Linked DNA regions of Homo sapiens: region 2 is linked to region 1. Evidence: fine-mapped expression QTL. A gene starts in region 1. The other region holds a variant in brackets. All regions are shown on one strand. Distances are from middle to middle.

Evidence for each region. PIP is the estimated chance that this variant, and not a neighbour inherited with it, causes the effect. A credible set is the group of variants that fine-mapping cannot tell apart.
Region 2: its variant is the best candidate, but not a certain one, in a credible set for the expression of FBXO7 in tibial nerve (GTEx, PIP 0.84).

What each region holds. Positions count from the first base shown.
Region 1 is chr22:32,471,448-32,476,825 of GRCh38, forward strand. It overlaps FBXO7 (F-box protein 7), which reads left to right and starts at 3,364. Exons shown (of 9, transcript NM_012179.4): 1 at 3,364-3,677. The coding sequence starts at 3,556. RefSeq lists enhancers at 2,339-2,398, 3,124-3,624, 3,287-3,456, 3,625-4,125, 3,711-3,880 and silencers at 3,445-3,634, 3,645-3,954.
Region 2 is chr22:32,505,249-32,510,626 of GRCh38, forward strand. SYN3 (synapsin III) reads right to left here. Exons shown (of 14, transcript NM_003490.4): 14 at 2,572-5,378. Among named protein-coding and RNA genes, the nearest start is that of FBXO7, 33 kb to the left of the region's middle. The variant G/A (reference allele first, on the strand shown) is at 3,415.

The DNA.
Region 1 (5,378 bases):
GGAGACGGTTCTACTAGCATTTTGTGGATAGCGACCATGGATGCTGCTAAACATTCTACACACAGAACCGCCTCTTGCAACAAAGACTTAAGTGGTCCAAAATGTCAATAGTGCTGAGGCTGAGAAACCCTAATCTATCCCCCACATCCTATCATAATCCCTAGTGATAGATTCACATTACAGATCTGAGCCTGCCCTAGTAGTTAGTATACACCTGTCAGATTCAAGGCTTCCCACCATCTTTTGAATAGCCTTCCCTTTTTCGGGAGGAAATTCCAATATTCTACGTCTTGCCTCCCCGAGGAAGGAGTTCAGACCCCAATTCCCAGTCTCCTTTGTAGCCAGGACCCAGGTGTGGGGCCCAGACTTCCTCAATCAGACATCCCTATGAGCTTTTGATGTGGAAGTGAGCAAGGTGAAGAAACAGGCTCTTTTGGAAGTTTGGCATTATGCAGGAGGCTGCAAAAGCATGTGGGATTTGATGTTAACAGTGGCAGTGGCAGCCATTCCCCAGTGAATCCCAGCAGTTGTGATGGCGATTTCCTCCAGCAGCAATCCCAGTCTTAGTATTTTCCTCATCAGGCCAGTTTTCAGCTTGGTTCTGAGCTTCATTCTTGGAAGCTTAGCCTGGGGCCACTTCTCCATCCTCCCTAGAATTCCCTGAGCTGTACAGCATCCTTTTAATACACACCTTTTCTGCTTAGTCAGCCAGAGTCAGCTTCTACTGCTGAAAATTAAGAACCCTGATAGTAAAGACTCCCTGCTAAAAACTGTCTAGCGGCTTCCCATACATTCTAGAATATGTCCCAAACCCTGTGCTTAGCCCAAGGCTCTTCTTTATCTGGGATGTACCTATGCTGTCCATCACTCTGGTCACACAGAGTCATCCTGGTCCTGGCACCATTCCTCACTGCTCACTACTAAAGAATCCTACGGGCATGGCAAACCTCCTCTATGTACCCTCTTAAAACCAAAATGTATTCAAACACCCATGCTAACATTCTTAAATATCTGCTAGCCATAATAAAAAAATCAATGTACTTTACAATCTTAACTCCCACAATTTAGCCTAAATATTTGCCCTAACATATTTATACTAGTTCAAACAAACATTAAGTCATAGCCTATTCCTCTTCCTTAAAGGGGTGTTGACCTTTCTCAACATTCCACAAGTTACTTCCTCCTTGCTTTGTTCTCCTCTGCCTTTGCCTCTTTTAAAAAGTTCTAAATTACTAGCCAATCAAGACAAATACAAAATATAAAGTCCCATTCCAGCCAATAAAAACCAGACACAGGCCAGGCGCGGTGGCTCACGCCTGTAATCCCAGCACTTTGGGAGGCCGAGGCGGGCGGATCAGGTCAGGAGATCGAGACCATCCTGGCTAACACGGTGAAACCCCATCTCCACTAAAATAATAATAAAATAATAATAATAATAATAATAATAATAATAATAATAATAATACAAAAATTAGCCAGGTGTGGTGGCGGGTGCCTGTAGTCCCAGCTACTCGGGAGGCTGAGGCAGGAGAATGGCGTGAACCCAGGAGGCGGAGCTTGCAGTGAGCCGAGATCACGCCACTGCACTCCAGCCTGGGCGACAGAGCGCGACTCCATCTCAAACAACAACAACAACAAAAAAAAACAAAAACAAACAAAAAACCAGACACAGCAGTAAAGTGGACACATCAGGTTATATATGACCCTGTCTCCTTTGTTCGGTGTACTCTCGTGACAAAACTGCTGGCGAGTATACCCTTTCTACAAAAAATAAAAATGGCCTTGCTAAAAAAATTAAATTTATATTCAAGTGCTATTTCTTTACAACATCAAAAAACAAACATTTCTAACAATCCCATTCCTCAGGTCTGTATTTATGTCTATCATAAAGCAGAGACTTTTTACACTCTACTGAAAGAGCTGATTCACTCAACTGTAAACTTTGCATGGGCAGAAACATGTCTTTTTGGTCTCTTGAGTCTCCAGCATGTGGGGTATCTGTCACAAAGTAGGCAATCAATACATATTTATTTGCAGAATCAAGGGCAGGATGTGGACAAGTGCTGCCACCTATTGGGAGAAACTTTATTTGACTCTAAGGATTTGGACTATGGTTATCACACAAGGACGAAACTTGATACTCTCTCTCATCTAAGTTATCATTAGTTAGACCCTCTATGGTAGCCAGCCTCCAGGATGGCCCGCAGCGATCCCTGTCTGTTGGCATTCATACCTTTGGCTGGATCCTCTCACACATAGGGTTGGTTTGTAAATATGACAAAAGCCGTATGTGACCTCTGGAGCTAGGTCATAAAAGACATTGTGGCTTATACCTTGGTCTCTCTGGGATCACCTGCTCTGAAGGAAGCCAGCTGCCATGTCATGGGGACACTCAAACAGCCCTATGGGGAGGTTCACGTGGTGAAAACAGGTCTCTGGCCAACAGTCATGACTGTGCCATCCTGGAGGCCGATCCTCCAGCCCTAGTCAATAACTGCTGCCCTGGCCTACAGTTTGTAATCTCATGGGAGACCTGGAGACAGAACCACCCAGCCACGCATCCCCAAATCCCTTTACCTCTAAAACCTGTGGGACAACAAATGTTTATTGCGTTAAACTTTGGGGTGATTGTTATGCAGCCACAGAGTTCTAATAAACTGTCGGACATAGATTACTGGCTACAAATAGTTCTACTTTTTTTTTGAGACAGGGTCTCGTTCTGTGGAACCAGGCTGAGGTGCAGTGGTGCGATCACAGCTCATTGAGGCCTCGACCTCCGGGCTCAATCGACCCTCCCGCCTCAGCCACCCAACTAGCTGGGACTACAGGCAGGCGCCACCACACCTAATTTTTTGTATTTTTTGTAGAGATGGGGGGGGGGGTTTCACCATGTTGCCCAGGCTGGTCTCGAACTCCTGGGCTCAAACGATCCACCCGCCTCGGCCTCCCAAAGTGCTGGGATTACAGGCGTGAGCCACCGCGCCCGGCCAACCTAAGGATTAACCTAAGGCTTCTCAGAGCAGATGCCGCTGGAACTGAGGGCCACGGAAGAAAGGGGGTGACACTTGGTCCTGGGGAGTGGCGACTGTATTGTCTGTCTGCAGCATCCCTATCAGCGCTACCGTTGTTCCACGCACACAGGGAGTAAGTACTGGGAGTCCCAGCCACCGCCGCGGAAAATCTGGGATGCCAGCGAGCGGCCGCATCTCGGCGCCTGCGCACTGTGCCCGCGCTCTCAGGCAGCGCCGTTGCGCGCGGAGTCATCGATCGGCCGACCCCGAGAGGCCCGGTTCCTTTAGGCCGCCTGCCCGCCTCCAGCTCTCGGGGTCGGCTCCAGGAGGCGCCCTCAGGAGAGGGGCGGGCGCTCTATTCCAGAGACCGAGTGGCAGGGCGGCCACTGTGGCGGGGCTCTTTCCCCGTTTCGCCTCAGCTACCCCTCAGCTCCGGTAGTCGCCAGTCCGGGGTCGTCGCCGTTTGGGGCGGGAGCTGCTCGGCCCCGCCGCCGTCCCCGTCGCCGCTTCCGGGTCCAGGCCCCTCGGGCCGCCTGCCGCCGTCATGAGGCTGCGGGTGCGGCTTCTGAAGCGGACCTGGCCGCTGGAGGTGCCCGAGACGGAGCCGACGCTGGGGCATTTGCGCTCGCACCTGAGGCAGTCCCTGCTGTGCACCTGGGGGTACAGGTACGCTGGGGCCGGGGCTGGGCGGCCCGCGGGGAGTGGGGAGTGCTTGGGGTGGGTGCAGGGCGGGTTGGCGTCATCTGTGGGCTGCAGGCGCGGGCGTGGCCGGGCGATAGGCCAAGTGCGGGGACGCCGGGGGGGCCTTCACGGGAGGCCCGGGCTCTTCCGGGCGTCGCGGAGCCGGAGGGTGCAGGCGACGGGAAGCGCGGGTGGTCGGCTGGGGTCCGGCTCCTGGAGAACATGGCCCGGCCTCCCGGGGGCTCTGGTCCCCTCCTCGGTGAGTCATGGCTTCTGGTTTTGCAGTAAACGGAACCAGGGAGAGGAGGGAACGCACAATTTCCACAACTGGTTAGATTTCAAGTTGGAAATGATGAGCTTGGCTTGGGTTAAACCTTTCTGGACTGTGAGGGGTCCGAGTTAATTTCTTCAGCTGTTGGAGTATTTCAATGAAAAAGTTTGGAAATTGCTAGAAGTTAAAAATCTGCCCTCAATCCGAGGCCACCGGTAGCTTGTATCGCTGCTGTGAAGCGGCAACAATTTTAGATTCTGTTGTGTTCATGCGCCGAGCACCGCGGTGAGCGCTTGGACTTCGCCGCCGAAAAGTTTTAGAAAGGACAGCGTGTAGGCGTGTTTCAGACCATTTCATTTTCTTGGGTGAAATGTTGCTTTTTTGCTAAAACTGAGGCAAACGTTGATCTTGAGAGCTTGCAGTTTGGGGGCAGTAAAGTTGAGAAAGGATCATATTCTGTTATTGGTTTGTGGGACTGCAGGTGAAGCTGCTTTGTTTCCCTAAAAGATACTTTTTGGGGACAATAATTTGGGAGTAAAGCGGCAAGGTAAGAGTGGTCCTCTTCAAATACTGAGCTAGTGAATTTGAAACTTGAGTGTGCTAAGGAAAAATGAAAAAGATGTTCCCTGGGGATTTTTAGGTGAATTCTTCAAAACAAAAGCAAACCTTCCTACGTTTTCACCTTATTTTTAGGGAATTGGGTAAAATGAGGCCGTTATTCTGAACTTCTCGCCCTTTCATTTTCCTGGTTAAGACATTATTAGATTGAAAGTAAGCCTGTTTTCTTCCTGATTAAAAAAAAAACCCTAAATAAGATACTGACATAACTCCTTTTAAACATTATAGTAAGTGACATGCCTACTGTTATTTCTTGTTGTTAAACCTGTGTGTTTTACATACTGGCATCGTTACCAGTAGGTTACGAGTAGAAGATTGAATAAATCTTCAAACTTATTTTTTAAAGGTATTACCAAGTATATATATATTTTATTATTTTTAAATTAGGCAGTCTTGAAAGGACGTGAAACTCAATATGACTGCCCAAAAGGGCACGTTGGTTTCTCTTTCAGATTTCTTTTTACAGTTGAGGCTGGTTACCTGGACAGAATTTAAGCTTCAGCTTGTGAAAGTAAACTCATTTTTTCTGAAAGTATACTCATTTTCTAATAAAGGTGCAGTTTTAAAATATGTCCATGTGATATTATTTTAAAAATATCTTTACTGAGCAAGTGGAGCTAGGATTGTCATGAAATGCTTTTATTTGTTTTGTTTTTGTTTTTTAAGAGAAAAGTGAAAGCAAGTTTATTAAGAAAGTAAAGGAATAAAAGAATGGCTACTCCATAGGCAGAGCTGCCATGAAATACTTCTAAGAAGGCTGGAGTTTCTAGAATTTCATTTCCTGGAATTAAATACTC
Region 2 (5,378 bases), 34 kb after region 1:
GCTGCCTGATCGCCTCAGAAGCCCCGTAGACCATCACGGATGCCGAGCTTTAGGTAACTCTCACGGTGGAGGGTAAGTCCGTCCCCTTCTTAATCAATACGGAGGCTACCCACTCCACATTACCTTCTTTTCAAGGGCCTGTTTCCCTTGCCTCCATAACTGTTGTGGGTATTGACGGCCAGGCTTCTAAACCTCTTAAAACTCCCCAACTCTGGTGCCAACTTAGACAATACTCTTTTAAGCACTCCTTTTTAGTTATCCCCACCTGCCCAGTTCCCTTATTAGGCTGAGACACTTTAACTAAATTATCTGCTTCCCTGACTATTCCTGGACTACATCTATATCTCATTGCCGCCCTTCTTCCCAATCCAAAGCCTCCTTTGCGTCCTCCTCTTGTATCCCCCCACCTTAGCCCACAAGTATAAGATACCTCTACTCCCTCCTTGGCGACCGATCGTGCACCCCTTACCATCTCATTAAAACCTAATCACCCTTACCCCACTCAACGCCAATATCCCATCCCGCAGCACGCTTTAAAAGGATTAAAGCCTGTTATCACTCGCCTGCTACAGCATGGCCTTTTAAAGCCTATAAACTCTCCTTACAATTCCCCTATTTTACCTGTCCTAAAACCAGACAAGCCTTACAAGTTAGTTCAGGATCTGCACCGTATCAACCAAATTGTTTTGCCTATCCCCCCTGTGGGGCCCAACCCGTACACTCTTTTGTCCTCAATACCTCCCTCCACAACTCACTATTCCGTGCTTGATCGTAAAGATGCTTTCTTCACTATTCCCCTGCACCCCTCGTCCCAGCCTCTCTTTGCTTTCACTTAGACTGACCCTGACACCCATTAGGCTCAGCAAATTACCTAGGCTGTACTACTGCAAGACTTCATAGACAGCCCCCATTACTTCAGTCAAGCCCAAATTTCATCCTCATCTGTTACCTATCTCGGCATAATTCTCATAAAAACACACGTGCTTTCCCTGCTGATCGTGTCCGATTAATCTCCCAAACCTCAATCCCTTACAAAATAACAACTCCTTTCCTTCCTAGGCATGGTTAGTGCGGTCAGAATTCTTACACAAGAGCCAGGACTGCGTCCTGCAGCCTTTCTGTCCAAACAACTTGACCTTACTGTTTTAGCCTAGCCCTCATGTCTGCGTGCAGCGGCTGCCGCTGCTTTAATACTTTTAGAGGCCCTAAAAATCACAAACTATGCTCAACTCACTCTCTACATTTCTCATAACTTCCAAAATCTATTTTCTTCCTCATACCTGACGCATATACTTTCTGCTCCCCGGCTCCTTCAGCTGTACTCACTCTTTGTTAAGTCCCACAATTACCATTGTTCCTGGCCGGGACTTCAATCTGGCCTCCCACATTATTCCTGATACCACACCTGACCCCCATGACTGTATCTCTCTGATCCACCTGATACTCACCCCATTTCCCCATATTTCCTTCTTTCCTGTTCCTCACCCTGATCACGCTTGATTTTTTGATGGCAGTTCCACCAGGCCTAATCGCCACACACCAGCAAAGCCAGGCTATGCTATAGTACAAGCCACTAGCCCACCTCTCAGAACCTCTCATTTCCTTTCCATCGTGGAAATCTATCCTCAAGGAAATAACTTCTCAGTGTTTCATCTGCTATTCTACTACTCCTCAGGGATTATTCAGGCCCCCTCCCTTCCCTACACATCAAGCTCCAGGATTTGCCCCCACCCAGGACTGGCAAATTAGCTTTACTCAACATGCCCGAGTCAGGAAACTAAAATACCTCTTAGTCTAAATAGACACTTTCACTGAATAAGTAAAGGCGTTTCCTACAGGGTCTGAGAAGGCCACCACAGTCATTTCTTCCCTTCTGTCAGACATAATTCCTCAGTTTAGCCTTCCCACCTCTATACAGTCTGATAGCAGACCAGCCTTTATTAGTCAAATCAGCCAATTAGTTTTTCAGGCTCTTAGTATTCAGTGAAACCTTTATATCCCTTACGGTCCTCTATCTTCAAGAAAAGTAGAACGGACTAAAGGTCTTTTAAAAACACACCTCACCAAGCTCAGCCACCAACTTAAAAAGGACTGGACAATACTTTTACCACTTTCGCTTCTCAGAATTCAGGCCTGTCCTCAGAATGCTACAAGGTACAGCCCATTTAAGCTCCTGTATAGATGCTCCTTTTTATTAGGCCCCAGTCTCATTCCAGACACCAGACCAACTTAGACTGTGCCCCCAAAAAAAACTTGTCATCCCTACTATCTTCTGTCTAGTCATACTCCTATTCTCCGTTCTCAACTACTCATACATGCCCTGCTCTTGTTTACACTGCCAGTTTACACTGTTTCTCCAAGCCATCACAGCTGATATCTCCTCGTGCTATCCCCAAACTGCCACTTTTAACTCTTGAAGTAAATAAATAATCTTTGCTGGCAGGACTATGCTGAATCTCCTTAGGCACTCTCTAATCAGATGTCCTAGGTCCTCCCAATTCTTAGACCTTTTATACCTGTTTTTCTCCTTCTTATTCCATTTAGTTTTTCAATTCATACAAAACCATATCCAGGCCGTCACCAATCATTCTACACAACAAATGTTTCTTCTAACATCCCCACAATATCACCCCTTACCACGAGACCTCCCTTCAGCTTAATCTCTCCCACTCTAGGTTCCCACGCCGCCCCTAATCCCACTCGAAGCAGCCCTGAGAAACATCGCCCATTCTCTCTCCATACCACCCCCCAAAAATTTTCGTCGCCCCAACACTTCAACACTATTTTGTTTTATTTTTCTTATTAATATAAGAAGGCAGGAATGTCAGGCCTCTGAGCCCAAGCCAAGCCATCGCATCCCCTGTGACTTGCGCGTATACGCCCAGATGGCCTGAAGTAACTGAAGAATCACAAAAGAAGTGAAAAGGCCCTGCCCCGCCTTAACTGATGACATTCCACCATTGTGATTTGTTCCTGCCCCACCTTAACTGAGTGATTAACCCTGTAAATTTCCTTCTTCTGGCTCAGAAGCTCCCGCACTGAGCACCTTGTGACCCCCGCCCCTGCCCACCAGAGAACAACCCCCTTTGCATGTAATTTTCCATTACCTTCCCAAATCCTATAAAACGGCCCCATCCCTACTCCCTTTGCTGACTCTCTTTTCGGACTCATCCGGCCTGCACCCAGGTGAAATAAACAGCCATGTTGCTCACACAAAGCCTGTTTAGTGGTCTCTTCACACAGACGCGCATGAAAGGGGCCCCAAGGAGAGGTCTCATGTTCTCATTCTGCCTCCTCCCATTCCTCTTCAGATTCAGTTTGGAAGAGGTCTTTTTGAGGTTGAAAACCTGCCATTGATCTTCTTCCGCTTCTTTTCTCTATCTCATTTTACTGGGTTTTGGTTTGTTTGATTCT[G/A]TTCCTGGGCAAGTGACTTCCATATATTGATACTCTTAGAAAAACATCTTTTTACTTCAATCTTAATACTTTTGTTTGGATTTTATTTCATAGTTTTCTAGGAGGGCTGAGCTAAAACATGTCCTGAACACCTGCTGGGTGCCAAGCAATGTGCTCTGAGCTTCACTCTCTTGACCCATGCACAAGATACCTGCACTAGCTTGCCAGATGAGAACTTCCAGAAGGCAGTTGATGTTCAGTTTTATGGGGTTTGCTGCTGTGTTTGTTACCATGTGAGTGAAGACCTATCATCCCCTTAAATTTTGGAAAGATAGAATTGAGTGTTAGTTCTATCTTGAATGTATCTGAATATTAGTTAATTCAGCAGGGACGGAATGTTAGGCTAGAGAATGTAGTAATGAAGAGAATCTAGGGAACTGATGGAAGAGAAAGGATATGCCACTGTTCCTGGAAAGCTGATTTTACATTTAACCAAAGTACGGTACCATTTTATCGCGCTGACGGGAGGAAGATCTGGAAGAACTTTTCTGTGGCTGGTAGAGCTGTCCGCTAAGGCTGCGTTTTTAAATCCCTGTTCATTGTGAACAAATCAAATAGGTCTTTGTTGTGTTTCAGCTTCCCCGAGTCAGCTTGGAGGGAAAATGCTAGCCTCTCTCTGGCTCAAAGTTGTGAAACAAAGCAAGAAAAACAACAAACATAACATTTTAGAGTCTATACAGCATGACTCCCCTCTCCCTCCTTTTTGCCCTTTCCCATTTCAAAATGTCACAATTATTAAAGGTTACATGTTTGGAAGGAACAGGTACTAGTCTATGTGACAGAACAGACTATTTTAGGGTCGCCATGAGACCTATGTGTCCTTGGTTCCTATGTTCATACACAGACCAATGGGGAAAGTATTATTATTATTATTATTATTATTTTGAGACAGAGTCTCACTCTGTTGCCCAGGCTGGAGTGCAGTGGTGCGATCTCGGCTCACTGCAAGCTCCGCCTCCCGGGTTCACGCCATTCTCCTGCCTCAGCCTCCCTAGTAGCTGGGACTACAGGCGCCCGCTACCACGCCCGGCTAATTTTTTATATTTTTAGTAGAGATGGGGTTTCACCGTGTTAGCCAGGATGGTCTCGATCTCCTGACCTAGTCATCCGCCCACCTCGGCCTCCCAAAGTGCTGGGATTACTGATGTGAGCCACTGCGCCTGGCCCCAGTGGGGAAATTATTTAAATGTGTTGGCTATAAACTAGTGTTATGTCATGGATCTGGATATATGAGTATGGTTATAAAAATCAGGATGCCTGGCCTGATTTGGAGCTTGGAAGGAGGTTCTGCGGCTGTTGTACACAGATACTGGAGTATCTGGGAGATATCCTTTGGATGCTGAGGTGTGTCTGAGGCCAAAGGACAGAATATAGGAATATGGGAGAATTTAGGCCATGTGGTCATTGTTCACGGGGCCACTAGTTTCACTCACTAAAGGAGTGGGTTCGTAGCTGCGTTGGAGACTGCAGCACACCCGTAGCAGTACTGTTTCTCATGCAGTGGCTTTCCCACAGAGCCCAGCTCAGGTTTGCTGGTCTCACATCAAAGTGCATTCAAAGTGGGGAGATTGACAAAGATGCAGGTTCTGGGTCCTGTGACCAGAAATTCGGACTCCTTTAGTCCGACATGAAGCTTCATCTGCCTTTGTAACTAGCTCTGCCCATGGCCGTGGCCCACAGGTTGAGAAACTTTGTCCAGCCTATTACCATTCAGTTGTATGTTTTGAGCTGTCTTTTATTACTAAGTGAAAACTGGGTGAGATTGTTGAAGAGGGACGATTGCCACAGGGGTTTCCTGTGTTCTTAATCTCCTGAAACTTGAGGACCTCATGGTTACACCCTGCCCTACAAGTTTTCTCTTACCCGTTTATTCAGGATGTCACACAGCATTATTTATTAATATTTGAAAGGTCTACCCCTGAGTA